Linked DNA regions of Homo sapiens. The protein of the gene in region 1 purifies or fractionates together with the protein of each later gene. This does not show direct contact. Each region holds a gene or a part of one and is shown in the gene's direction. Other genes may lie near its edges.

Region 1 (3,500 bases):
ACACTAGAGAATCAAGTTGACCCTGGAGGTTTTTTTTTTTTTTTTTTTTTTTTGTATTCAGTAGTCTTAGCCTAAGAGCTAATGATTATCTGTGCATTGTTAATGAGATGATAATCAGAGTTGTAAGTGATAAGAGTAGTTTCTCATAAAAAGTTTACATAACAGGAGAAAAAATATTTAATGTTGGGCGCAGTAGTAGCTCAGGCCTGTAATCCCAGCACTTTGGGAGGCTGAGGTAGGAGGATGGCCTGAGCCCAGGAGTTTGAGGCTGCAACGAATGGTGATCATGCCACTGTACTCCAGCCTGGGTGACAGAGAAAGACCCTGTCTCAAAAAAAAAGTTTTTCACTCTATAAAACTTTTTTATAAGTATGATATTGTGTTATAGAAGTACAGTATTGCTTTATGAAATATAAATGTAATATTGTAGTTTTTTTAAAATAATGTGAACAGTCTATTATGGACATAGCTTAATTTCCTCCAGTACAAACTAGCTTTAGACTGGTTTGCATAAATAGAACAAAGGTATATGTTCCCTTTTGGAAAACTGCAGATCTGCAAAGATTGTGCCTGATTTTGCCAGCATGTTTTTTCACATCTTTTTTTTTTTTTAATTTGATAACATTTTTCATGCAAAAAATTACCTAGATCTGTACAAAGCTCCTAATCCATACACCATTTGGAGTAAGCAGAAACACTGGGGTCCTAAGACATGTAGGAGGGGTGTTAAGGAAAATGTTAATAGTATAACCATGCTTTAGTGGCTCTCCTTTTAGTATTGTTTTAATAACAATATATTTATTAAATAAGCAGTTGAACACTTATTAGGTATAAGACACTCTTTGTGCTGGTCCTATAAAGATGGCTAAGAAATGGTTTGGTGAAGCTCATGACTTGGTAGAGTGTACACAGGTAATTATTGTGTAAGGGAGATTATGGTAAGTGCTGTAACCGATATTTAGTGTTGGTGGGAACACAGATGTAAATGATTATCTTCATTTGGAGTTCATAGAAAAGGTGAGAGTTGATAGGGAGTGATGGGAAATTAAGCTGGAAAAGTAATTGGGAGCCTCTTGGAAGACCTTGAGTGCTAACCTGATTATTTGGTTTTTTGGCTGGTTGGTGTTTTTTAGAGACAGTCTCATTGCTCTGTTGCTCAGCCTGGAATACAGTGGCAAAGTCGTACTTCACTGCAGCCTCAACCTCCTGGGCTCAAGGGATCCTCCTGCCTCACCCTCCCCAGTTGCTAGGACTATAGGTGTGTGCCACCAAACCCAGGTGTGCGCCAGCAACCCCAGCTAATTTAAAACATTTTTTTTGTACAGACAGCCTTGCTATGTTTTCCAGGCTGGTCCAGAGCTCCCGGGCTCAAGTGATCCTTCTGCCTTGGTCTCCCAATGTGGTGTGATTATGGATGGCCTAAGGTGATTATTTGAATATTAATCAGGGATACAGAGGACAAGGGTAAGGTATTGAGGTTTTTGTTTGTTTGTTTGTTTTGACGGAGTTTTGCTCTGTTGCCCAGGCTGGAGTGCAATGGTGCGATCTTGGCTCACCGCAACATATGCCTCCCGGGTTCAAATGATTCTCCTGCTTCAGCCTCCCGAGTAGTTGGGGTTACAGGCATGCGCCACCACTTTCAGCTAATTTTGTATTTTCAGTAGAGACGGGGTTTCTCCATGTTGGTGAGACTGGTCTCGAACTCCTGACCTCAGGTGATCCACCCGCCTCAGACTCCCAAAGTGCTAGGATTACAGGCATGAGCCACCGTTCCTGGCGGCATTGAGGGTTTTAAGATGAGGTAGGGCTGGATGTAAACAGTGTAAAATAGATTGGAATTGGTGGACACCATAAGAGAAATATAATCAAAATCTGATTTTGGTGGTGGGCCTAGGAATGAATAGGCCAAGAAGCTCTTTTTGAGGCAGGGTGATGTAGGGAACTTGGGAATAATTGTACTGTAAGTCACTAAAATAAGTTTGTGGCTATGAGCATTTCACTTAAGCTAGGTCTTTTCCTTTGTCTAAAAAATGGAAGAAAATAATACCTCATGGTATTGATGTGAGGATTAATAAGAGATAGAAAATGCCTACTGGGCCGGCTGGGCGCGGTGGCTCACGCTTGTAATCCCAGCACTTTGGGAGGCCGAGGCGGGCGGATCACGAGGTCAGGAAATCGAGACCATCCTGGCTAACACGGTGAAACCCTGTCTCTACTAAAAATACAAAAAATTAGCTGGGCGTGTTGGCAGGCGCCTGTAGTCACAGCTACTTGGGAGGCTGAGGCAGGAGAATGGCATGAACCCGGGAGGCGGAGCGTGCAGTGAGCCGAGATCACGCCACTGCACTCCAGCCTGGGCGACAGAGTGAGACTCTGTCTCCAAAAAAAAAAAAAGAAAATGCCTAGCTTGGTTCTGGTAATAGTAGGTGCTCAATAAATAGGTTCTCCTTACCCCTTTTCTGAAGTGTGGAATTTAAAGGGTAAGATGGGAGTGGGGTACACCCCCTTCAGAAGGGAGGGTAGGAAAAAACCTGAAATTAAAACCTGGTGATAAAATAATCAGAAAAGGGAAAGTTCTGAGTAAGGTGAACAGATACAAGAGAACCTTTTTAACAAAGTGTTGTGCTTATTGTAGGTCTTTAATAAATGCTGGATGCTTATTTTTGCATACTTCTGTTACACTTAACATTGTTCTGCAATTATATAAATTTATCTGTAATTGATTGTTTAATCTGTCAGTGAGCTTCATAAGAAAAGGAGCAATTATTTTACTTACCTTGCACAATTGTGGAGCACCTACCATCTGCCAGAATGTTATTTGCTGGATGAATATGGCTTGAGCAGATTTGGTAATATATAACACTTGCCACTAGGTGGCTCTTGGTCTTGATAAAGCTGACATTCAGCATAGATAGGTTTTTCTACCTAGAAACCCACGTAGAAACTGACCCCCGGATTATATTCACTTTTTTGCCTTTTCTGTACCTATATTTTTTGAAGTGGAATATGAAACACATATCATATAGAAAACTCATTTAGACTGTTGAAAATTAGAAAAGTGTAATGCCTTTAGAATATGTCCTGTAGAAAGAAGCAGAATGGAAGCTCAATGAAATTCACAAGTGAACAAAGCACATTTCCCCATCTCTCAATGTGCTTAAAGTGAGGCATGATGGTTTGATTTTAGGCATTGTTTTTTGTTGTTATGACTGCGTAAATTGCTTTAAAGGAAGATATTGTGAGGATTTGTTTCTCAGAGGATTTGATGAACGATGATGAAGCGTGGTGTGTACTGATGCTAGGCTATGATTCTGTGTGCTCTTATTTGTATTGTACTCTTCCTATTGAGAAGTAACATACCATCTAATGGTAACTTACATAACATAGAAAGGTAACTACATCCTGTGTGACACGTGTGATATATATTATTAAATCCATTAGATTCAGGAAATTTTAGAGCCAGAGAAGACCTTACTAATCATATATTCTAAAAGTACCCA
Region 2 (3,500 bases), on another chromosome or scaffold:
GCCAAAACTGATCCAAAGCTTTAGTTAGGATGCATTCTAAAAGATAAATTAGCCTTTTTTCAGTGATTGCTACATACAGAATAAGCCTCTGTTTTTTTTTAAATAACATAATTTGTCTTTAATTTGAAAACTGATGGACGAAGAAAACGAACCCTATATAAAGTTTCTGTTCTTTGACTGTTGAAAAATGAGTAGTTTATTTGTGATTTAAGCATCTCACAAGAAATTTTGTAATTTTTTTGCCCAGTGAATGAAGAGAAAGTTTGAACATGTAGTATCACAATGCTATATACAGACTGTCCATTGGCTCATTATGCCCTATATATAGTTTTAAAAACAATTGTTCTTTTTTGTTGTTGTAGTTTTTTGTTGTTGTTGTTGTTGTTGTTGTTGTTTGGTTTTTTTGACACAGAGTCCTGCTTTGTTGCCTAGGCTGGAGTGCAGTGGCACGATCTCGGCTCACTGCAAGCTCTGCCTCCTGGGTTCACGCCATTCTCCTCCCTCAGCCTCCTTAGTAGCTGGGACTACAGGTGCCTGCCACCATGCCCAGCTAATTTTTTGTATTTTTAGTAGAGACGGGGTTTCACAGTGTTAGCCAGGATGGTCTCAATCTCCTGACCTTGTGACCCGCCCACGTCAGCCTCCCAAAGTGCTGGGATTACGCGTGAGCCACCGCATCCAGCCTTGTTCTTTTAAAAAAAAAAAAAAAAAAAAAAAGTATCATCAAGGGAGTACCTTCTGTTACAGATTTTGCGAACATGCCACATTTGCTTTCTTCTTAGATTTGAAGGAAACTAAGCCTCACACTTTACTGATCTTAAGAATTATCTCACTATTTTACTGTGTTTTCTTGACCCAGAGTACCATCCTCGAGGACTGTCCACGAGGGCCTGAGGAATCAGGAGCTGAACTCCACAGAGTCAGGTATAAGCACATGTCATCTTAAGGAAAAGAAGACTTAGTTTCTTTTAATGGACTATATCTGAAAATAACTTAAAACAGTACATTTGATGTATAGTATGTGTCTTCATAGAGGGGTCTCTTAATTGTGACTTTAGAGTTATAACTGTCTAAGATGTGTTTAGTTTAATAATCATCTCTAGGCTGATAGTTCCGTCCATTTCTAATAATTGTAGCTATTCTTTACTGATCAACCGTTGTGTGCCAACGGCTCAGAAGGCCAATGTTACCATCCTTGACTTTAGCTAAAGAACCTGAAGTTTTCCAGGCAGTGTTCTTTCTTAAGCTAGATGGTTGAGAGGTAGAAGTTTATTCTTTTTAAAACCCTTTTTTATGATATGCATACTTTGTATATAAATTTCACAGTTTATGTGAAAAAAATAAAGCAATGGAAAAAGAAATTGTCCCAGAGGCAATTAATGCCTGATAAATGAGAGAAAAATCCTTGCTGGAGGTTCAAGCCTTTTGTCCAGGGTCCTCTCTTGAACTATTCTTAACTTCCACGTGCTTGTTGTGTAATGTTTAGCATCCTGGCTGTGTGTATTCTAGCACAGATTGCGCATTTGGGTGATATTTAGTAAATGCCTAGAAGAGAAATCGAAGCTCAGAGAGATCACACAGCTTATGAGTAGAAAGACCAGAAATGAAACTGAAGTCTTTCACAAATTAGAAACCCGTACTTCCGTCTCTTGTACCTACTGCCTTTTCATTACATCATTTGTACATAGAGGGTTAGGACTGTGTAACTCCTTGCTTTTGATGCTTTCCTGGCCATTCGAATGCCTACTGAAACCACAGAATTTAAGACATTAATATCTTCTGCACAACCTCAGCCAAGGCCTTTTGGTTTGGGTTTTGTCATAGGTCAGGTTCCCTGGGAAACAGAGTCTGAGACTCTGACATATGCATTCAGGAGTTTCATTGGGGAGTATTTTTGGGAACAGCTCCTTAGAAGGAGTAAAGGAAGTAGGATTGGGCAGAGAGATAAGTTGAACCATGATGCAGTTGCAACAGAAGTTTCTTCTAGTTCCACTGGGAGCCCTGAAGCTGATCTAACCACTCAGAGTTGATCCTAATTCAGGTGTGGTGGCCACACTTTACTGACCAGTTATTGGAAGTAAGCCACTGCTCCCTCCCCACCTCACAAGGGGCAAGGTGGCCCTCTCCTGCTGAGAGCAGTACCCAGTTCAGGGTGATTCCAGAATAGACATAAAACTGGGAACTGTAAGCTGCCAACATACCCAGCAGCAGGGGTATGAGTGCCTTAATTCTGAAAAGAGGCATTTGGGTTGCAGGGTTCAACTGGAAATGTGAGCACCAGCATACTGGCCACTATGATAGACCATCGTTTTTTTGTTTTGTTTTGTTTTGAGACAGGGTCTCGCTGTGTCATCCAGGCTGGAGTGCAGTGCAGTGATATCAGCTCACTGCAACCTCCACCTCCTGGGCTCAAGCTGTCCTCCTACATCAGCCTCCCGAGTAGCTGGGACTACAGGCATATGCCACCACATGTGGCTGATTTTTTTGTTTTTGTTTTTGTTTTTGTTTTTTGTAGAGATGGGGCTTCACTGTGTTACCCAGGCTGGTCTCAAACTGGACTCAAGCGATGTGCTCCCCCGTTGGCCTCCCAAATTGCTGGGATTACGGGCATGAGCCACAACACCTGGCTGTGACTATTCTTAATTAAAGAGAAAACATTATGAACTGCAGGATCCTATCAACAATGGGCAGTGTGCGCATATCTTTCCTTAACATTGGATTAACAGGCATATCTATTAGAAGAGCTTCTCTGTGCTTTATAGCAGTATTTTAGTGTCTTTGAATTTTTTACATTCAACAGCTGACATGCCTACCACTATGAGGGGATTTTTTAAAAACATTAAATTGAAGGACAGTATTGATACAGACAAATAGTTGAAGAAAAGGGTCTCCAGACCCAGTTATACCCCACAGTACAAAAAAAACTTAGAGATGTGGTCACAGCATACTTTTAGCCCTCTGAGAAATCTCAGAGATGGGATTGCTCTCACAACATCAAAGGCTGCCAACATATTAGTTTGGTGGTTTTTAGGAGACAAACTAATTCTCAATAATATTCAACAATTTCTATAAATATTCCAGAATAGATGATTGAAAGTTGGTTTTTGAAGACCTGGAAAAGAAATCATTGATCATCCAGAATCCTCATGTGTTCTTAAAATACACCCTCCACTTTCTTTATTAATAGAAGATAGGGTTCTTCTATCAATTTTGCAGTAACCTAGGAACTAATCAGCATGTTAATTCAGGACCCTCTTTGATTTCAGCAGAGTGATAAGCTCTGTAAGTTACTTAAGAGCATTCTCAGACAACATGTTAAGCTTCAAAATAAGTAATTCCAAACTTTATATTAATATAATGGTACATGTGCTTCGTTTTTCTTCCCTGGCAGTTCAGCTTTGGAAACGTGGGGTAGAGAATGACTGTTTTGAATATTTGTTTTTCTTCATTTCCCAGTTATGATTAATGGAAAATATTGCTGTCCAAAGATATACTTCAAC
Region 3 (3,500 bases), on another chromosome or scaffold:
CCAATCAGAAGCCTTGGTTAGAATGCATTCTATTAAAGGACTCTGTCGGCGGGTACTTCCAGGGCAATTTAGGTGAGTTATATTTGAGGGTCTTGGTGGCAGATTCAGGTCCCACGAGGAACTGTACCTTTTGGGGGGAAATTTGCTTTCTTGGATTTAAGAAAGTGCTTAACCTAAGTTAAGCACTAGGTTAGCCAGCAGCTGGTTTCTGAGCCAGGAGACTGGGCTGATGGCTTTGGAGAGGAAGGAGGCAGGATGGAGCATTGGAGAAGCTGGGCCGGCAGATTCTGATGCAGAGGAGGAGGCGACACAGGCCCCTGATCCCAGCCCCAGCTCCTCTTCCTTGTGAGAACTTCCGGCTGGGGTTTTCGGGACTGGGGTCTGGTGGTCTCCTTTGGTCTCCCAGTTAGTGGGCTGCCTTGCGGGGAAGGGACGGAAGAGGCTGAGGGTCAGCTCCCAAGAGCAGAGGAGTTGGTGGGACTTGGGCCGGGAGGTGCAGAAGGGTGCATCTGGCTGCACCCTGCCCTGCCCAGCTGCTGGGTGTGACCTTGGGCAAGTCACCTCACTTGTGGGCTTGTGTTCAGAGGGGCAGGGGTGATGGCTGAGCTTGCAGTCACACACCCGCTTCTGATAAGTGGCGGGCTGTGTGAACTAGCAGTCAGTAGAGGCGCTTCAGTGGGTTGGCATCTGCAGGTTGCTGTTGTGCCAGGTCTGGCTACTTGACCTTGGGATCATCACCTTCCTTCCCACGACCCTGCATTGCTTGCTCACTGTAATCTCGGCCACCCCACTGGGTTTTGTGAGAATCAGGCAGGGAAAAATGTCAACGAGGTCTGTGAATAATAAAAAGAGTTACACGATTACAGCGATTTCCGAATGCCTGGTCCTTTTTTTTTTTTTTTTTTTTTTTTTTTGAGACAAGGTCTCACTCTGTTGCCCAGGCTGGAGTACAGTGACATGATCACAGCTCACTGCAGCCTCAACCTCCTGGGCTTATTACATCCTCCCACCTTAGCCTCCTCAGTTGCTGGAACAATAGGGACACTCCACCATGCCTGGCTGATTAATTTTTTCTAGTGATGGGGTCTCACTATGTTGCCCAGGCTGGTCTTGAACTCTGGGGCTCAAGCGATCCTCCTACTTTGGCCTCCCAAAGTGCTAGGATTATAGGTGTGAGCCACTGTGCCCGGCCTAGTCTTCTCTTTTACAGGGATAACTGTCACCTGCCAGTTGGGGCATCTGGCTCTGTGGGCCGGTCAGAGCTCATTCTGCCCTATGGCCTGACACCTGCTCTGGGGTCAGGGTTCACGCCCAGCGCTTGCTGCAGCTGGACCCTACCCAAACCTCTGTGCCCCCCTCTTTACATGGGAGTCTTCAGGCCACCTGACTCAGGAACATTGTGACAATTCAGTGAGAAAATTCTCGCCAAAAACTTAAAAAAAAAAATGTATCCCTCTGTTGTGGACCCTCCAGGAGGGCCAGCTCTCAGGTGGCCCAAGGCTGGACTTGGTGCTCCCTTTTCACCCCCTAGTCAGCTCTGGCTTTTGGGCATTGCCAGGAGGGACCCAGGGGCTGGGTGGGCAGGGGTCTCTCCCCACATCTCTCCTGAGGGGGATGGTGATGCCTCAAGATTGCACTTACCTTGTGTTGTGGCTTCCTATGGACATCTCTTCCCACCTCTTACCTCCAAAGAGCCCCAGCTTTAAGCCACCCACTGCAGAGCAGTCCTGGTCCCCTTGGCCTGCTGGCCTCTCAGACATGGTATGGTCTGAGTTTGTGCCAGGCCTGGGAGCCTGGACTCCGCCCTAAGGCTGGGCCACACACAGCCGTGCAGCAGGCCTGCTCCAGTCCCCCTATCACCTCCACTTCAGGGCAGGGGAACCGGGAGAAGTGAGAGCACTGACATCCAGCTGACCGACCCTAAAACCATCCCCTCTCTGCCCTGCACCCTAAAGTCTCATGGAAAGTGGGGGGCCCGGGCCCCTTTTGCAGTGCGGACATTTCAAGACCCTGTAAGAGACTTGTACCCTGGGTGCAGGCCCTGGGCCTTTGGGTCCTGATGGAGGAGGGGGCTTGGCTTGATGAGGACGGAAGGAGGCTGATTTGCATCCAGACTTCCGGCGTTGGACACCTCTCTATTGGGAGAGGAAGCCGAGGCCGGGGAAGGGGCAGCGATGCGTCCAGGGTCCCACAGGGAGCCAAGGCTGGACAGATGGGCAGGCTGGGTGGGGCCAGGAAGGCCACGGCTGTTTCCAGCTGTTGCAGATGTGCTGCCTCCGGGGTCCGTGCAAACTCCTTTCCGCCTGCAGGCTGGCGAAGGGGCCAGGGCACACAGCAGGGGAGTTAGACTTGGCAGCCCCTTGACCCCAGACTGCCTTCATCAATGGAGCAGGAGCTGCCCAGAACCCTTTTCCTGTTCTCCCACATTCAGGGGCATGAGCCCCCTTGGCCCAGTCCTGGAACAGGGCACCCCGGGAGGGCCCCTCAGGAAGAGGCCGGGGCTGCGGCTTCGGGTGGGGCCGGCAGCCTCTGCTGAGAGCCCAGCATCTGGAAGCCATCAGGCCAGGGGCGGGGGGAGTTGCAGGGGAGGTCCAGGGAGGGGGACATGCCTCCTCCAGGCCACACACAAGCCCAACCCTCGGGAGCGTGGCCTTGGGCCCACAACCGCTGCCTCTGCACCCTGGCCCGCAGCCCCGCCCCCTGGCGCACACGCCCCGCCCTCGTCCGAAGCCACGCCCCCAGCCAGCAGCCACGCCCTCTTCCCCCAGGCTGCCTTCTCACCGCACTGGCCACTGCTCCTGCAAGGGTCAGCAGCGCTCCCCACAGCATGGTGGGAGCCTCGCTTCTCCGGCGCAGGGTGGGTCTATCTCTTGGAGTGGGTGGGCTGTGGGGAGCCGTGTCCCCAGGGGTTGTTGGCTTGGTGTCTTTTTGGGGAGTGAGTGGTACTTGTCTTCTGTGAAGTCTTAGCCTAGCGGGGCTGGGGCTTGTGGTGGGAGGCGTGGCCGTGAGGGTAGGAAGGGAGTGGGGACGTCTTCCTCAGTCCTGGGGTGGCAAAGCCTGAGACGCTGAAGAGGCGCTCCAGGTGCCTAGCAAATCACTCAGAAGTGTTCCAGGAGCGGGGACAGCGTCCCTGAATGTCGTCTGCATCCCGCGTGCATCAGAATCACACCACGCACGTTTCTGGGCCCCACCGGGCCTGCTAGTCAGACGCTGGGGCCAGCACCCGTCGTCTGCATAGTTTCTAAGCTCTTGGATGTTTTGATGCTCAGACACACTGGGAATTCTGTTCCGGAGGAGAGACTGCTCCCTGTGAGGAAAGCCAGGGAGGGGATGGGTTTTTGTTGTTGTTGTTGAGACAAGGTCTTGCTCTGTTGCCCAGACTGAAGTGCAGTGGCGTGATCATAGCTCACTGCAGCCTCCAACTCCTGGGCTCAAGCGATCCTCCCACTTCAGCCTCCTGAGTAGCTGGGACTACAGGCATGCACCACCACACCTGGCTA
Region 4 (3,500 bases), about 110 Mb from region 1:
TCTTAGTGCTGTATTAAAGTCTCTACTTTCCCACTGTCCTCCTTCATGGGAGGTTGGGCTCTTGGTATGCATGGTAAAAAATGAGCAGCAACCAGTCGGGAAGTGAATAGTCATTGACAAGCTTTTCAGTCTCTTCATCCTGACCAGTGGCAAACAGCCAAAGCTCCTTTAATATAACATTTGTTCTACCCTGAAGGAGAGAGTGGGGAAATGCCCATTAAAGCGACTCCCCCTGCCCTACATGGATGAATTCAAGAGAGATCATCTTACTGCCAGTTGCTGTGCTGTGCCTCAATTCTTCCAGGATGCAGACATGGTCATTTTACTTGGAGAATTTGCAGAAAAGTCTTTGCTTTAGAGGCCCTCATGTCTAAACAGGTTCTAACTAGTGCTTGGGTAGGTGTCCACAGTTGAGTACTTTAGAAGCACTGGGAAATAACGCAGGCAGATCTTGCCTCACTTGGTTATTTGCATCTTGTAGCTCCTGGAGTGCCCCACCCCACCCCCGAAACCCCAAGCTTGATGGAGCTGCAGGGCTGGAGGTGGTGCTGGCCTGCAGAGACAGGCCTGAGCTCTGTGGCTTCATTCTTGTCCTCAGCCTTACAACCCCCAAACCTCACAGTGGCTTCTTGTCTGCACATGCCAGCCGGCTCTAAAGATTCCGTCTGGATAAATAAAAGTATAACTTGGTTTACATTGACTGCAATCAGTAGCTACTAGAAAAATATCATTGAAATGTGAACTTCTATATATTATCTTAGTTTCATTAAGAATATATACCATTGGGGAGATAACAGCATTTTATATACTCCAGATTAAGTTCTGAAGCAGGCAGAAATATAGGCAATATACATGAATGTTTGTAGTAGCCCAGGCGTGTCAGAAGGTTTATGAGATCACAAGCTGTCAGAATGGTCTGTTGTTAATACAAATTGTGCTTCTACATTCGCTGTTCTTACACTAGCTACAGTAGAGTATTTCCTTCAAGCCAGACCAAAGATGAATAATTAATTCCAGTTCACAGGCTCTGCAGACATGTGAGTGCAATGATGCACCTATCCTCACCCCCACTAAATGTCTTTCAAAATGTGCCAACTTGGGACAAGTTCCTGTCTTTGCGGGAACATGAGTTTTAAGGGTACTTCTTTGAGGTCCTTATGCCTGCCTAACTATGTGTCACTGAAGCTGGTAGCTGCAGAGGTCATGTTTTGAAAGAGCTCAGTCAGCTGAAGAAGCAAAGTGATGTTTTTCTGGATTAAATCTGTGTGCTCCTCCTCTCTTCTCTCGTCTCACGAAGTATTTTCAGTGTGGACAGAATGTTCTTTTGTGAGTCCTCATTAGAATAATCACTTCTTAACCTCACAAAATCTCATCAGGTAAAAGCGTGCTTTTTAATGAAATATTAACTCACCACTGTTTGAAACGAGCTTCAAAATACATATATAAACATGTGAATGTCTTTCTGCAAACATATCATTTATTTCTTGTTTTTATCTGATTGTGAAGCAGTATTTACATAGTTCTCAGAATAGTTCATTACATTATATGCGGGTACATTCCACAAATACGAGCACGAATTACAGGTACGATATAAAATATAATTATACATAGGTTTAGTTCAGTTTCGTTTTCTGCTATTGCTAGTGAAAACTCACTTTATTCTTTGTTGATCACAATGACCATGATCAACATTTCGTTTTAATGAATGACTTCAGCAGCAAAGCCTTTTAGGCACGTTTATTTCAAGAAAATTGTCTTTTACAGATGTTTACTTATTTGGAACATTTGTATAAAATGCCATCTCAGAAATGAATAGGAATGCGCTTACTTCCTGTATATTTCAAAAAACAGGGAAACAAAAATAGAAACAAAAGATATTTCAAAATTTTGAATGTGTTTTATCTAGTAATTGCATTTCTCAGAATTTACATATTATTCTTTTTGATCAGATGGTTGAACAAAGATTATGCTCATGGTGTTACTTATGATAGTGAAAACTTTGATCCAAAAATAAGTATTTTGGAAAAATAAATACGTACATGACATTCATGATATAAATGAATGACTAATCATATGGAAATGCTCATAATATGAATAAAATAGATCATAAAACAATTATATGTTACAATCCAAATTGTGACTTTTAATATGTGTAGAAAAATACTGAATAACTAAAATGTTATTTTAGGAATTCTAAATACTGAATTCCTAAAATGTTAGGAATGATATTTATTTCTGGCTGGAAAAATTATGAGTGATTATTGTTTTCCTCTTTATATTTAACTGAATTTTCTAAACTTTCTATCATACATGTGTATTAATTCTACCCTCTGGGAAAATACTTTTTTAAGGAAGGGAAACTCCCTACTTAAAAAAGTTTACCCTTCGTTAATTCTTTTTTTAAAAAAATTCTTAGTTGAATTGATTTGCCAGTTGGATTGAGACAATATCATTATTTGCTATTCATTGACATATATTAGTTGTGAATCCCTGCTTTAGTGAGTAGTCCTAAAACCTGCCTCCCACACTCAGTTTCTTTTCCATTCTGTCTCCTAATCCCTTTACCATGTTCTCATTCCTAGAAAATTTTAGCTAAATTAGTGACAGTGAAAGTAGCAATAACATTTTTTACCATTAAAAGTTTTTGAATCTTCTCTGAGATATGTTCTTATATTATTTCTTTGTTCTTATATTATTTCTTTATTCCCTTTACTTTTTTTCTCTTTCTTTTTTTTTTTTTTTTTTTTTTTTTGAGACGGAGTCTTGCCCTGTCGCCCAGGCTGGAGTGCAGTGGCGCGATCTCTGCTCACTGCAAACTCCACCTCCCGGGTTCACGCCATTCTCCTGCCTCAGCCTCCCGAGTAGCTGGGACTACAGGCGCCTGCCGGCACGCCTGGCTAATTTTTTTTTTTTTTTTGTATGTTTAGTAGAGACAGGGTTTCACCGTGTTAGCCAGGATGGTCTCGATCTCCTGACCTCGTGATCCGCCCGCCTCAGCCTCCCAAATTACTGGGATTACAGGTGTGAGCCACGGCGCCCGGCCTACTTTTTTTTTTGTTTTAAAACCTTCTGGAACTTCTATTCATCATGGACTAAACCTCCCAGATTGTCTCTAATTTTCTTCTTACCAGCTTCACTTTTTAAACATTAATACATAATATTTACACATATTTATGGGGTACATGTGATATTTTGTTACAGGCATAGAATATGTAATGATCAAGTCAGGGTATTTAGGGCATCCATCACTGTATTTATTCTTTCTTTCTTTCTTTTTTTGAGAAAGAGTCTCACTTTGTTGCCCAGACTGGAGTGTAGTGGCACTATCATAGCTCACTGCAGCTTTGAATTCCTGGACTCAAGCCATCTTCCCACCTCATACCCCAAGCAGCTGGGACTACAGGCATGTGCCACCATACCTGGCTAATTTTTTTTTTTTAATTTTCAGTAGAGACAAGGTCTCACTATGTTGCCCAGTCTAGTGTCCAACCACTGAACTG
Region 5 (3,500 bases), on another chromosome or scaffold:
AGGATCCCTTAGTTCAGCTGTGTGAGGTTACTCTGTGTCCCTCATTTTTTTCCCACCTGCTCAGTGGGATCAGAACCACCTGTCCCTCTGGAAGGGAGAGGCTTAGATGGTCTTTTTTGCTGAAAAGACTGAGGAGCTGCCTCCTTGCCTTGTGCTTTGCTCAGATGTAGCCACTGGGAGTGGCCAAATAATGGTACTCAGTTTTTCTTCTTCTAAAACTTTAGAACTTGAAATAGTAAGATTGCTTTGTTTTCCTCCTGAGTTTAGTCAGGAAAACAGTAACTTGGAAAATTACCCCAGACAGTTATCAAACAAGACTATAATTTTATATATATATTTTTAATTTTAAAATGCTGCTCCATTTACACAAAAATGTGCAGTTCTGGATAGATACATAGTATAGGCACATATTATGGGGCCAGGATGATGGTTTTCTAGGGCATGCAAGAGGAGAAATTGTATATATGTCTTTATGAAATCACTTGACACATTCTCATCACTTAGTACAAAAGCCAGAGTTGTTGCTGGGGTCTGTTTAGAGTGTTTTCCAGGGGTGATGATTTCAGCAGGGGTGATGTCATTATCACATTTAGGGCCTTTTTTTTTTTCTTGCAAACCCAAGGACAAGGCTACCCTTAGCCTAATTCCCCACAGTAACTGCACTATTACTCTGGGGAGCTCAAAAATAGATGGGACGAATTATAAGCTTTTTTTTTTTTTTTCTTTGAGATGGAGTTTTTTACTCTTGTTGCCCAGGCTGGAGTGCAGTGGCACCATCTCAGCCCACTGGAACCTCCGCCTCCCGGGTTCAAGTGATTCTCCTGCCTCAGCCTCCCGAGAAGCTGGGATTACAGGCATGCGCCACCACACCTGGCTAATTTTTGCGTTTTTGGTAGAGATGGGGTTTCACCATGTTGGCCAGGCTGGTCTCGAACTACTTACCGCCCACCTTGGCCTCCCGAAGTGCTGGGATTATGGGCTTGAGCCACGCCCAGCCATTATAAGCTTATATGTATCTTTTCAGAGACAGGGTTTCCCCGGCTCTGTCACTGAGGCTGGAGTATAATGGTGTGATCTCTCACTTCATTGCAACCTTTGCCTCTGGGGCTCAAATGATCCTGCCACTTCAGCCTCCCAAGTAGCTGGGGCTACAGGTGTACACCACCACGCCCGGCTAATTTTTTTATTTTTTGTAGAGATGGGGTTCACCATTGCCCAGGTTGATCTTGAACTTCTGGGCTCAAGCAATCAGCCCACCTCGGCCACCTAACGTGCTGGGATTACAGGCATGAGGCACCGTGCAGAGCCTGGCCAGCTTCTATGTATCTTATAAACACATATGCCTGGAATAAAGGGTGTCAAGGAGGAAGCTTCAGACTGCTGCTAAGACCCTCGTCCCCCTGAGAGGCACTCCCTTCCCCAGACTCTGTCCCTTCTACAAAGGCACAGGTCACAGGTTAGAAATATGACATCCCAGTTCCTTTTCTGAACTTTCAGAATCAGTGACACCCAAGGATCAGAAAAACATTCTTCTTTCCCCTCAGCAAAGATATGGAAGAGAAGGCTGGGCGCGGTGGCTCACGCCTGTAATCCCAGCATTTGGGAGGCCGAGGCAGGCAGATCACCTGAGGTCAGGAGTTCGAGACCAGCCTGGCCAACATGGTGAAACCCTGTCTCTACCAAAAATACGAAAATTAGCCAGGCATGGTGGCAGGTGCCTGTAATCCCAGCTACTTGGGAGGCTGATGCAGGAGAATTGCTTGAACCCAGGAGGCGGAGGTTGCAGTGAGCTGAGATCGTGCCATTGACCTTCAGCCTGGGTGACAGAGTGAGACTCTGTCTCAAAAAAAAAAAAACAGATATGGCAGGGAAAGCTTGAGCTTCCCTCCAGAGATGTTAAAATCTTACCTTTTAAAATTCCACAATAGGCCAGGCGTCGTGGGTCATGCCTATAATCCCAGCACTTTGAGAGGCCAATGTGGGCAGATCACTTAAGGTCGGGAGTTCGAGACCAGCCTAGCCAGCATGGTGAAACCCCCATCTCTACAAAAAATACAAAAATTAGCTGGGCATGGTGGTGCATGCCTGTAATCCCAGGGAAGTTGAGGTGGGAGGATCACTTGAGCCCAGGAGGTGGAGGTTGTAATGAGCAGAGATTGTGCCACTGCATTCCAGCCTGGGCAATAGTGAGACCCTATCTCAATCAATCAATCAATCAATCAGTTCCACAATAATTTGAAGAGGAATGAGAGTCTGACAAGCTGCGCTTTAGAAATGCTGTTGTAATGGTCTTTAATACTTTTTTCTCCTTTTACTCATGCTCTTTTGTAAAATAAGGAATAACATTGACAAGTTTTTAAAACAATATAATAATTATTATTTTTATTATTAGAGATGTGGGTCTCATTGTCACCCAGGCTGGTCTTGAAGCCGTGGATTCAAGTGATCCTCCCACCTCAGCCTCCCAAAGTGTTAGGATTACAGGCGTGAGCCACTGAAACCGGCCTGACACATTTTTAAAAAATATTTTCATTAAATCACAGACTTCTGTTTCTGTGTTTAACATTTTCTTTTTTTTTTCTTGAGACGGAGTCTCGCTCTGTCGCCCAGGCCGGAGTGCAGTGGTGCGATCTCGGCACACTGCAAGCTCTGCCTCCCGGGTTCATGCCATTCTCCTGCCTCAGCCTCCTGAGTAGCTGGGACTACAGGTGCCCGCCACCACACCCAGCTAATTTTTTGTATTTTCAGTAGAGATGGGGTTTCACTGTGTTAGTCAGGATGGTCTCGATCTCCTGACCTTGTGATCGGCCTGCCTCGGCCTCCCAAAGTGCTAGGATTACAGGCGTGAGCCACCGCGCCTGGCCTAACATTTTCATAAACTATTTTCGAGATGGAGTTTTGCTGTTGCCCAAGCTGGAGTGCAGTGGCGTGATCTCTGCTCACTGCAACCTTCGCCCCCTGGGTTCAAGCGATTCTCCTGCCACAGCCTCCTGAGTAGCTGGGATTATAGGCGTGCACTACCATGCCTGGCTAATTTTTTTATTTTTAGTGGAGTTGGGGTTTCTTTGTCATGTTGGTCAGACTGGCCTCAAACTCCTGACCTCAAGTCATCTGCCTGCCTCGGCCTCCCAAAGTTCTGGTATTATAGGCGTGTGCCACTGTGCTCGGTCCATTTTCATAAATTAAAAAAAAACATGTAACTAGAGTCACATAACACATGGGGGGAAATGATGCCTTGTCTCAACAGTTTTGCTAATTTTTAGGGTAGAAAGATGATGAGTGCTTAGAGTTTACCTTACTACATTTAATTAAGATCAGTGTTTCTGTAAAAATGTAATAGGGAAGTGGTGCAGAGCATAGAGAAGTTGACTCAAGCATAAGGCAGGAGGTGAGAGGAGCTCAGGGTCTGGGTCAGCTGAGAAGGCTCAGGTGGCCACAGCCAAGGCTCAGAGGGCTCTTGGGGATCCTCATGATGGGCCTGGTAGGGCTGGCTTCTCAAG
Region 6 (3,500 bases), on another chromosome or scaffold:
TCTCAAATTTTAATATACATGTGAATCCCCTGGGATCTTGGTAAAATTCAGCTGCTAAGTGCACTGGTCTGGGGTAGGGCCCAAGATTCTGCATTTCTAACAAGCTTCCAAGTGATGCCCATATTGCTGGTCCCTGGTCTATACTTTGAGTAGAAAAGATGTAGAGTCCAGTCAAAAAATCGCGAAGTCTCGTATATTTATGAGTCACAATTATAAAGTCATCTTCATGTATTTGGATTTATTGGGACCAGTGAGTTTGACAGCCTAGTAATAGATGGCATTGATGGAGATTCAATGAATGCTAGAGCAAAGTCTGTGGGTTTGATAGCTTTATACTGGTCTCAGTGGGCTGTTGCTTTCTACTTAAATAAGCATTTGATGATCTACTTAATGAATATTAAGAAGTCGAAGCTTTAGGCTAAAGTGTGAAACCAAAATGTATTGGTACTCAGTTGATTAAAAAAATACAGTTGCCACAATTGAGATCATTTCTGTGTTCCATCTTGTGCTGCTGTGTATTACAAATATTCTCCCCCCTTCTTCATGCAGAGTATGATTTCTTCCATTGTGAACAGTACTTACTATGCAAATGTCTCAGCAGCAAAATGTCAAGAATTTGGAAGGTGGTACAAACATTTCAAGAAGACAAAAGATATGATGGGTAAGCAAAAAAAACATTGCAGCAGTGGCTACATACCATTACGTGTCATTTGGGGGTTTATCAAAGTCACATCTAAAGCCAGGTCTTTTGATTGCCCAATTAGAGATCAATTTAGAATGTTTCTTTGGGGGTGGGAAGTGGGTATGAGTATAATGAGATAATTAAATTCAATAAATGTTTGTGTTTAAATCAGCCAAACTGACTTGGTTGTCAGACATGCAGGAAATTGAGGCGTTGGGAGGGGAGCTGTCATTTTTTAACAACTCAGTGAAGACCTAACCAGGCCTTGAATAACTAATATTAGCTGTGATTTCTTTCTCTGATAAGTCTTGCTTTTAGGTTTTTTGTTTTTGTCTGGTTGAATGAGAAAGTGCCTATTTTTACACCCAATTTTAAAGGAAATTAAACTTCTTAAATTAAACTATTTATAGTTTCCACAGTAGAGATCAAGTGATTTTTATAGCTCTAACCCCCAGCCGCCATGGATGGGCACTTTGATAAGCACATTGCTTTACCATCCATACCAGAACAATTATTGCATCATTTCTGAACTTTTAATTCCAAGGTAGCATTCTATCTTAACACATAACTTTAGGTGAATATTTGTTATGCAAGAAGTACACTAAAATTATCTGCAGTGTAAAATGATAGATAAAAGTTGTGTATGGTACCTAAGCATTTAGATGATGGCATTTTCTCTCTGTTGAGTTTGTTAATGTTCACAAAAGCAAACACTGTGATTAAGGTTAATGTTTTAATTTTTATTACTGTTCTCTTTCACCTACTTTTACCCTCCAAAACATATATTTTAAAATAATATAGGAATGGGCATTATGTCCTGTTTTAAATCTATTTCTATTTATTTCTTTACATTCATTTAATTTTTTTTTAATTTTTTAAGAAAAATTAATCCAAATTTTGAGCAAGTTTTAGCTCTTAATATTTGAAGAAAAACCATCCATCTACCAAAATGGATTCTTTGCCTTTTATAGCTTAAGGCTGTAATGAAGACAATGCATCATTTTTGGAATAATTGCTTGAATTACTGTTCTCTGTGAATGGCCCACTTGGGCTGATATCACTGGTAGAAATTGAAGATTTCTTCCCCAATTCTTAGTTATATTTTGCGTATATCAGGAGCTATAGCGCTATGATAAAGTTCCTCTAAATGTAAAACCTGCATATTTAATGAAAAGAGAATTGATGATTAAAATCAAACTAGAGTCTACATGTGGGAAGTCTGTGTACAATTTGGAAAGTCCTGTTTATGTACAGCTTCATGCTCAGCCCTTCCAGCCAAGAGCATCGAACCAGTCTCCTCTTCGTACAGAAAAGCATTTACATACTTAGAGATGATGCTCAGCCAATCCATATGAGGAACCTAGCCAAGGAAGAAGCATTCATCCTGGGTAGGTGGGAATAAATTGCAAAATCATGACAGCCTCACCATTGTACCAGAACGATTCCCTGCAAGATTGTCTTTAGCATCTGGTGATGGCCATAGCTTCCTGAAGAAAAAACATTTGGATCTTAGCAACACTGGGTATGCTGGCTTGATATACAATAAATCACTTGCTTTATTCTAAAAAGTATTTCCAGATATACCTACTGCCCATGATGGTTAGAATTAAAATGAAGCAAGGCATATAAGATATTCAGCAAGTGTTCAATATACACTTATTATTATGCCCATTTTTATTTATTACATTAACTACTTCTATTCACTGCTGGGTAAAAATTGAAAGTAGGTGACTTTTTATGTCATATTTTTTCTTTTACACCTTTTTCCTAGAGTACTAAAGTTAATGAATATCATGAGAATATATTTGTAAATTTTTTTAGTTGCTTATTATAAGCTTATTTTCTCAGCTCAGCTCACTGTTTGTAGTTGTCATTAAGCAAATGACATTCTTTTAGAAGCCATTTTTAAAAATTGTTGCTTAGAAGCCTTCTTGGGGTAATAAGTGAGAGTGAACAACTAGTTGGAAAGAGTTTGGGTAATAATTGATTTTATGCCTTAAATCTAAACCACTTTTTAAAAATAAGATTAGGAATGCTGTCCCATTTCCAAAGTTTGTAGAATTGTTCAGGAAAGGAGAGCAAAAACACAGCCTGGTAAGTTGCAACTTGAAATTTTCTTGGTTTTATTGGATTTGGGGTGTGCCCTGTGCCTACCCTTTTTTAATTTAGGAAATGGTTAGAAATCTTTATCAATGCCAATCATTGTTGGCTGAATGTGATTTTACTCTTTGTCCACTTTAGTTGAAATGGATAGTCTTTCTGAGCTATCCCAGCAAGGCGCCAATCATGTCAATTTTGGCCAGCAACCAGTTCCAGGGAACACAGCCGAGCAGCCTCCATCCCCTGCGCAGCTCTCCCATGGCAGCCAGCCCTCTGTCCGGACACCTCTTCCAAACCTGCACCCTGGGCTCGTATCAACACCTATCAGTCCTCAATTGGTCAACCAGCAGCTGGTGATGGCTCAGCTGCTGAACCAGCAGTATGCAGTGAATAGACTTTTAGCCCAGCAGTCCTTAAACCAACAATACTTGAACCACCCTCCCCCTGTCAGTAGATCTATGAATAAGCCTTTGGAGCAACAGGTTTCGACCAACACAGAGGTGTCTTCCGAAATCTACCAGTGGGTACGCGATGAACTGAAACGAGCAGGAATCTCCCAGGCGGTATTTGCACGTGTGGCTTTTAACAGAACTCAGGTCAGTTGTGTTTCATAAGTGGTTCTGTGCTGTCTCCTATTTTCTCTTTCTTTAGTCCCATCTATAACTAAAGTTTATTCTTTTACTTCTGTACTAACATTTTCTCTCTCTCTTCATGTGAT
Region 7 (3,500 bases), on another chromosome or scaffold:
CATTTGAGGTTGACAAGATCTCAGTTCCAGAATTATGCTGCCATTGATCACAAGCTTTCCATTACCATTTTGGAGGGTGCCGTTGCTTTTGTCGTAGATGGGAGTCATACTGGAACCTGTGTGTTACATAGTCAAACTCAGTGAAGAATCACTAATCACTATATTATCCTCTTTACCAGAATAGAAAGCAGGCCTGGTGACCCAAGTGCCCTACTGTACTCAGATTATTAATTCAAGGTTTCTATTTTTATTGTTGCACTCACATGTTTATTCTGACCCTTCACTCTCACGTCATTAATGTAGCTGCAGCTGCACAAAGATAAGCTAGCTAGAGGAACACAGGAGAGCCAAGAGCTGGCTAACAGATTTGTGTCTTTTTCCTTAACATCCAAACTCTTGAAAACAGATTTAAGTAACTTAAAAATGGCTTGGAAGGGAGCAATACTCAGTATGTGTCACATGTATATGGACTTAGACCATGACTGTCTAGCCTCTGTGTTTATAAGTACATAAAATATTTTATTAACTGGTCATAAATGTGTTAAACTAAAAACAAGTGTATCAGATTTTTATTTGTTATATAAAATTACAACATAAAGGAGTAAATTTGAATAACATTTTGAGGAAAAATAAAAATATCTTACCCCCTACTATTGACCAAAAGTGAAGAAACAATACAAGCATAAGACACTATTATTGAGAAATAATTTTGAATGGCATTTTATAGAGCAAAACTTTGTTGTCATTGCCATAATTGATTGCTGTTTAAGATTTCTGGATCTTATAGAACTGAGGCCGTTTGAGACACATATTTGATCCTTATGTGTATATTTATGTATTTTTCTCTTATGTGGGGTTTATGGCTATAGTGTATGTTTTTAATTTCATAGCAGTATATTTTTGGTGTGACATACTGCTTTTGCATTATTTTGAGAAGTAAAACGTATTCCCTTTGTTAGAGAAAATACAAAGGAGGTTGTATTTTCCTGCTATTTGACTATCATCCTATTAACAAATTCATAAAACATGTTCTGGAAGGATGTCAGTGAGTCAGAATATAGAAAAATCCTTAAGCATGTAGTCAGATAGCTGTATGTCTCGATGAAGAGGTTGCTGTCACCTTATATTCAGTCATGAGACAGGCAGCATATTGATGTATAAAATTAACTTTATTAGACTTCTACACCTCCAAGCTTAATGGTGCAACCTTGTTTATAGCTTAGAGTGAAATGGGGAGTGCATTTGGGTTTTGAAATGTAATTATCTGCCAATTGTCAGTAAATTGTTACATTGGAAAAGTTAAATTTTTTGATGACAAAAATTGACAAATGAATTTGGTTATAATTTCTATTTCTGATGAAATGTGTTTTAGGAATAATATTCTGTTTTTACTGTTAGCAATATACTTTTGCTGTTAGAATCAGGAAATCATATAAACTAGGTTCTGTATATGGCATTTATAGTAAATTTAAGGCACTGATTTCAAGATCTGTTTTTAGTAAGATGACAATAAATTATTTAATACTGATTATGATATGGAAAAATCTGTTTAATTATGTTATTATTTGTCTGAATATTTCTCATAAGATGTATTTAGAAAAAGTTACAAGTTTCCCAAAGAAACTGCTATTTGAATGAACTAATAAACCACCAAGATCATACCCAGTTCTACTGTGACACGGTGTTTAGCTTTTTCTAGTAACTGAAATCTAGGTGTTTTTTTTGTTTTGTTTTGTTAATAGAATTCTCCCAGTCCTTGGCTACATCAGCCCACCCCTGTGACCTCAGCAGATGGTATTGGATTACTTAGTCACATTCCTGTCAGACCTTCCAGTGCAGAGCCTCATCGGCCTCTTAAAATTACAGCCCATTCCAGTCCACCATTGACAAAAACTTTAGTAGATCATCATAAGGAGTAAGTTCACCAGTGCTTAAAAATTATAAATACCTTGTTCATAATTTTTCTTAATTTGCCTTTTAAATAGTTAATTTTAAGTTAACACATATCTTAAGATTAGGCTTTGTTCTGTTTTGATATTTCTTCAAATTTATTATAGTATTAGAGTACATGCAAAGATGTCTTTTACTTTCATAATAGAATGATATTGCATAGAAGCTGTCTTTGTATTTTGCAGGAAAAAGTGGTTACAGAAATATTTGTGTATTTTCTTTACAGAGAATTAGAAAGAAAAGCTTTTATGGAACCATTACGGTCTGTTGCATCCACATCAGCCAAAAATGACCTGGATCTAAATAGGTCACAGACTGGAAAAGATTGTCACTTACATAGGCATTTTGTGGATCCAGTATTAAATCAGTTACAGAGGCCACCCCAGGAGACTGGAGAGAGGTTAAACAAATACAAAGAGGAACACCGTCGAATTCTTCAAGAAAGTATTGATGTTGCTCCCTTTACAACTAAAATCAAGGGACTTGAGGGTGAGAGAGAGAATTATTCCAGAGTGGCATCATCATCTTCCAGTCCTAAAAGCCATATCATCAAACAAGATATGGATGTAGAACGCTCAGTATCAGATCTTTATAAAATGAAGCACTCAGTGCCTCAGAGTTTACCCCAAAGTAACTATTTCACTACATTGTCTAATAGTGTGGTCAATGAACCACCAAGATCATACCCATCCAAAGAAGTTTCAAATATTTACGGTGATAAACAGAGTAATGCCCTTGCAGCGGCAGCAGCTAATCCTCAAACTCTGACTTCATTTATAACATCTCTTTCAAAGCCTCCACCTTTGATTAAACACCAACCAGAAAGTGAAGGTTTAGTAGGCAAGATACCAGAACATCTTCCACATCAGATTGCATCTCACTCAGTAACAACCTTCAGAAATGATTGTAGGAGTCCTACCCATTTGACAGTTTCTTCTACAAATACACTCCGCAGTATGCCTGCATTACATAGAGCACCAGTATTTCACCCACCAATCCATCACAGCCTGGAAAGAAAGGAAGGCAGCTATAGTAGTCTTTCCCCTCCAACTTTAACTCCGGTGATGCCAGTAAATGCTGGTGGTAAAGTTCAAGAATCACAGAAGCCTCCAACTCTAATACCCGAACCAAAAGACTCCCAGGCAAATTTTAAGAGTTCTTCAGAACAGAGTTTGACGGAGATGTGGAGACCTAATAATAACCTCAGCAAAGAGAAAACTGAATGGCATGTGGAGAAAAGCAGCGGAAAGTTACAGGCTGCTATGGCATCTGTCATTGTGCGTCCATCTTCTAGTACAAAAACTGATAGTATGCCAGCAATGCAGTTAGCTTCTAAAGATCGTGTTAGTGAAAGATCTTCAGCTGGGGCACATAAAACAGATTGCCTCAAACTAGCAGAAGCCGGAGAAACTGGAAGAATCATTTTGCCAAATGTGAATTCAGACAGTGTTCACACAAAATCTGAAAAAAACTTTCAGGCTGTCTCACAGGGCAGTGTTCCCAGTTCAGTCATGTCTGCTGTAAATACGATGTGTAATACCAAAACGGAT

What was found.
Region 2: the proteins of RBPJ (region 1) and SFMBT1 purify together in Homo sapiens (affinity purification with mass spectrometry; 2 studies listed by BioGRID and IntAct, with this or other methods). This does not show direct contact.
Region 3: the proteins of RBPJ (region 1) and TFAP4 purify together in Homo sapiens (affinity purification with mass spectrometry; 2 studies listed by BioGRID and IntAct, with this or other methods). This does not show direct contact.
Region 4: the proteins of RBPJ (region 1) and MAML3 purify together in Homo sapiens (affinity purification with western blotting; 2 studies listed by BioGRID and IntAct, with this or other methods). This does not show direct contact.
Region 5: the proteins of RBPJ (region 1) and ZNF589 purify together in Homo sapiens (affinity purification with mass spectrometry; 3 studies listed by BioGRID and IntAct, with this or other methods). This does not show direct contact.
Region 6: the proteins of RBPJ (region 1) and SATB1 purify together in Homo sapiens (affinity purification with western blotting; 2 studies listed by BioGRID and IntAct, with this or other methods). This does not show direct contact.
Region 7: the proteins of RBPJ (region 1) and JMJD1C purify together in Homo sapiens (affinity purification with mass spectrometry; 2 studies listed by BioGRID and IntAct, with this or other methods). This does not show direct contact.

The regions. Positions count from the first base shown.
Region 1 is NC_000004.12:26,327,514-26,331,013, forward strand, and holds part of RBPJ (recombining binding protein suppressor of hairless), read left to right. Parts: intron 1-3,500. UniProt on the Homo sapiens protein: Transcriptional regulator that plays a central role in Notch signaling, a signaling pathway involved in cell-cell communication that regulates a broad spectrum of cell-fate determinations.
Region 2 is NC_000003.12:52,913,574-52,917,073, reverse strand, and holds part of SFMBT1 (scm-like with four MBT domains protein 1), read left to right. Parts: intron 1-859; coding exon 860-924; intron 925-3,456; coding exon 3,457-3,500. UniProt on the Homo sapiens protein: Histone-binding protein, which is part of various corepressor complexes. Mediates the recruitment of corepressor complexes to target genes, followed by chromatin compaction and repression of transcription.
Region 3 is NC_000016.10:4,263,024-4,266,523, reverse strand, and holds part of TFAP4 (transcription factor AP-4), read left to right. Parts: exon of another isoform or gene 1-22; coding exon of another isoform or gene 23-72; exon of another isoform or gene 73-833; intron 834-1,641; exon of another isoform or gene 1,642-2,174; coding exon of another isoform or gene 2,175-2,857; intron 2,858-3,500.
Region 4 is NC_000004.12:139,885,185-139,888,684, reverse strand, and holds part of MAML3 (mastermind-like protein 3), read left to right. Parts: intron 1-196; coding exon of another isoform or gene 197-358; exon of another isoform or gene 359-700; intron 701-3,500. UniProt on the Homo sapiens protein: Acts as a transcriptional coactivator for NOTCH proteins. Has been shown to amplify NOTCH-induced transcription of HES1.
Region 5 is NC_000003.12:48,244,104-48,247,603, forward strand, and holds part of ZNF589 (zinc finger protein 589), read left to right. Parts: intron 1-3,500. UniProt on the Homo sapiens protein: May play a role in hematopoietic stem/progenitor cell differentiation. May play a role as a DNA binding-dependent transcriptional repressor.
Region 6 is NC_000003.12:18,394,340-18,397,839, reverse strand, and holds part of SATB1 (DNA-binding protein SATB1), read left to right. Parts: intron 1-549; coding exon 550-661; intron 662-2,923; coding exon 2,924-3,378; intron 3,379-3,500. UniProt on the Homo sapiens protein: Crucial silencing factor contributing to the initiation of X inactivation mediated by Xist RNA that occurs during embryogenesis and in lymphoma.
Region 7 is NC_000010.11:63,207,478-63,210,977, reverse strand, and holds part of JMJD1C (probable JmjC domain-containing histone demethylation protein 2C), read left to right. Parts: intron 1-1,742; coding exon 1,743-1,915; intron 1,916-2,176; coding exon 2,177-3,500. UniProt on the Homo sapiens protein: Probable histone demethylase that specifically demethylates 'Lys-9' of histone H3, thereby playing a central role in histone code. Demethylation of Lys residue generates formaldehyde and succinate.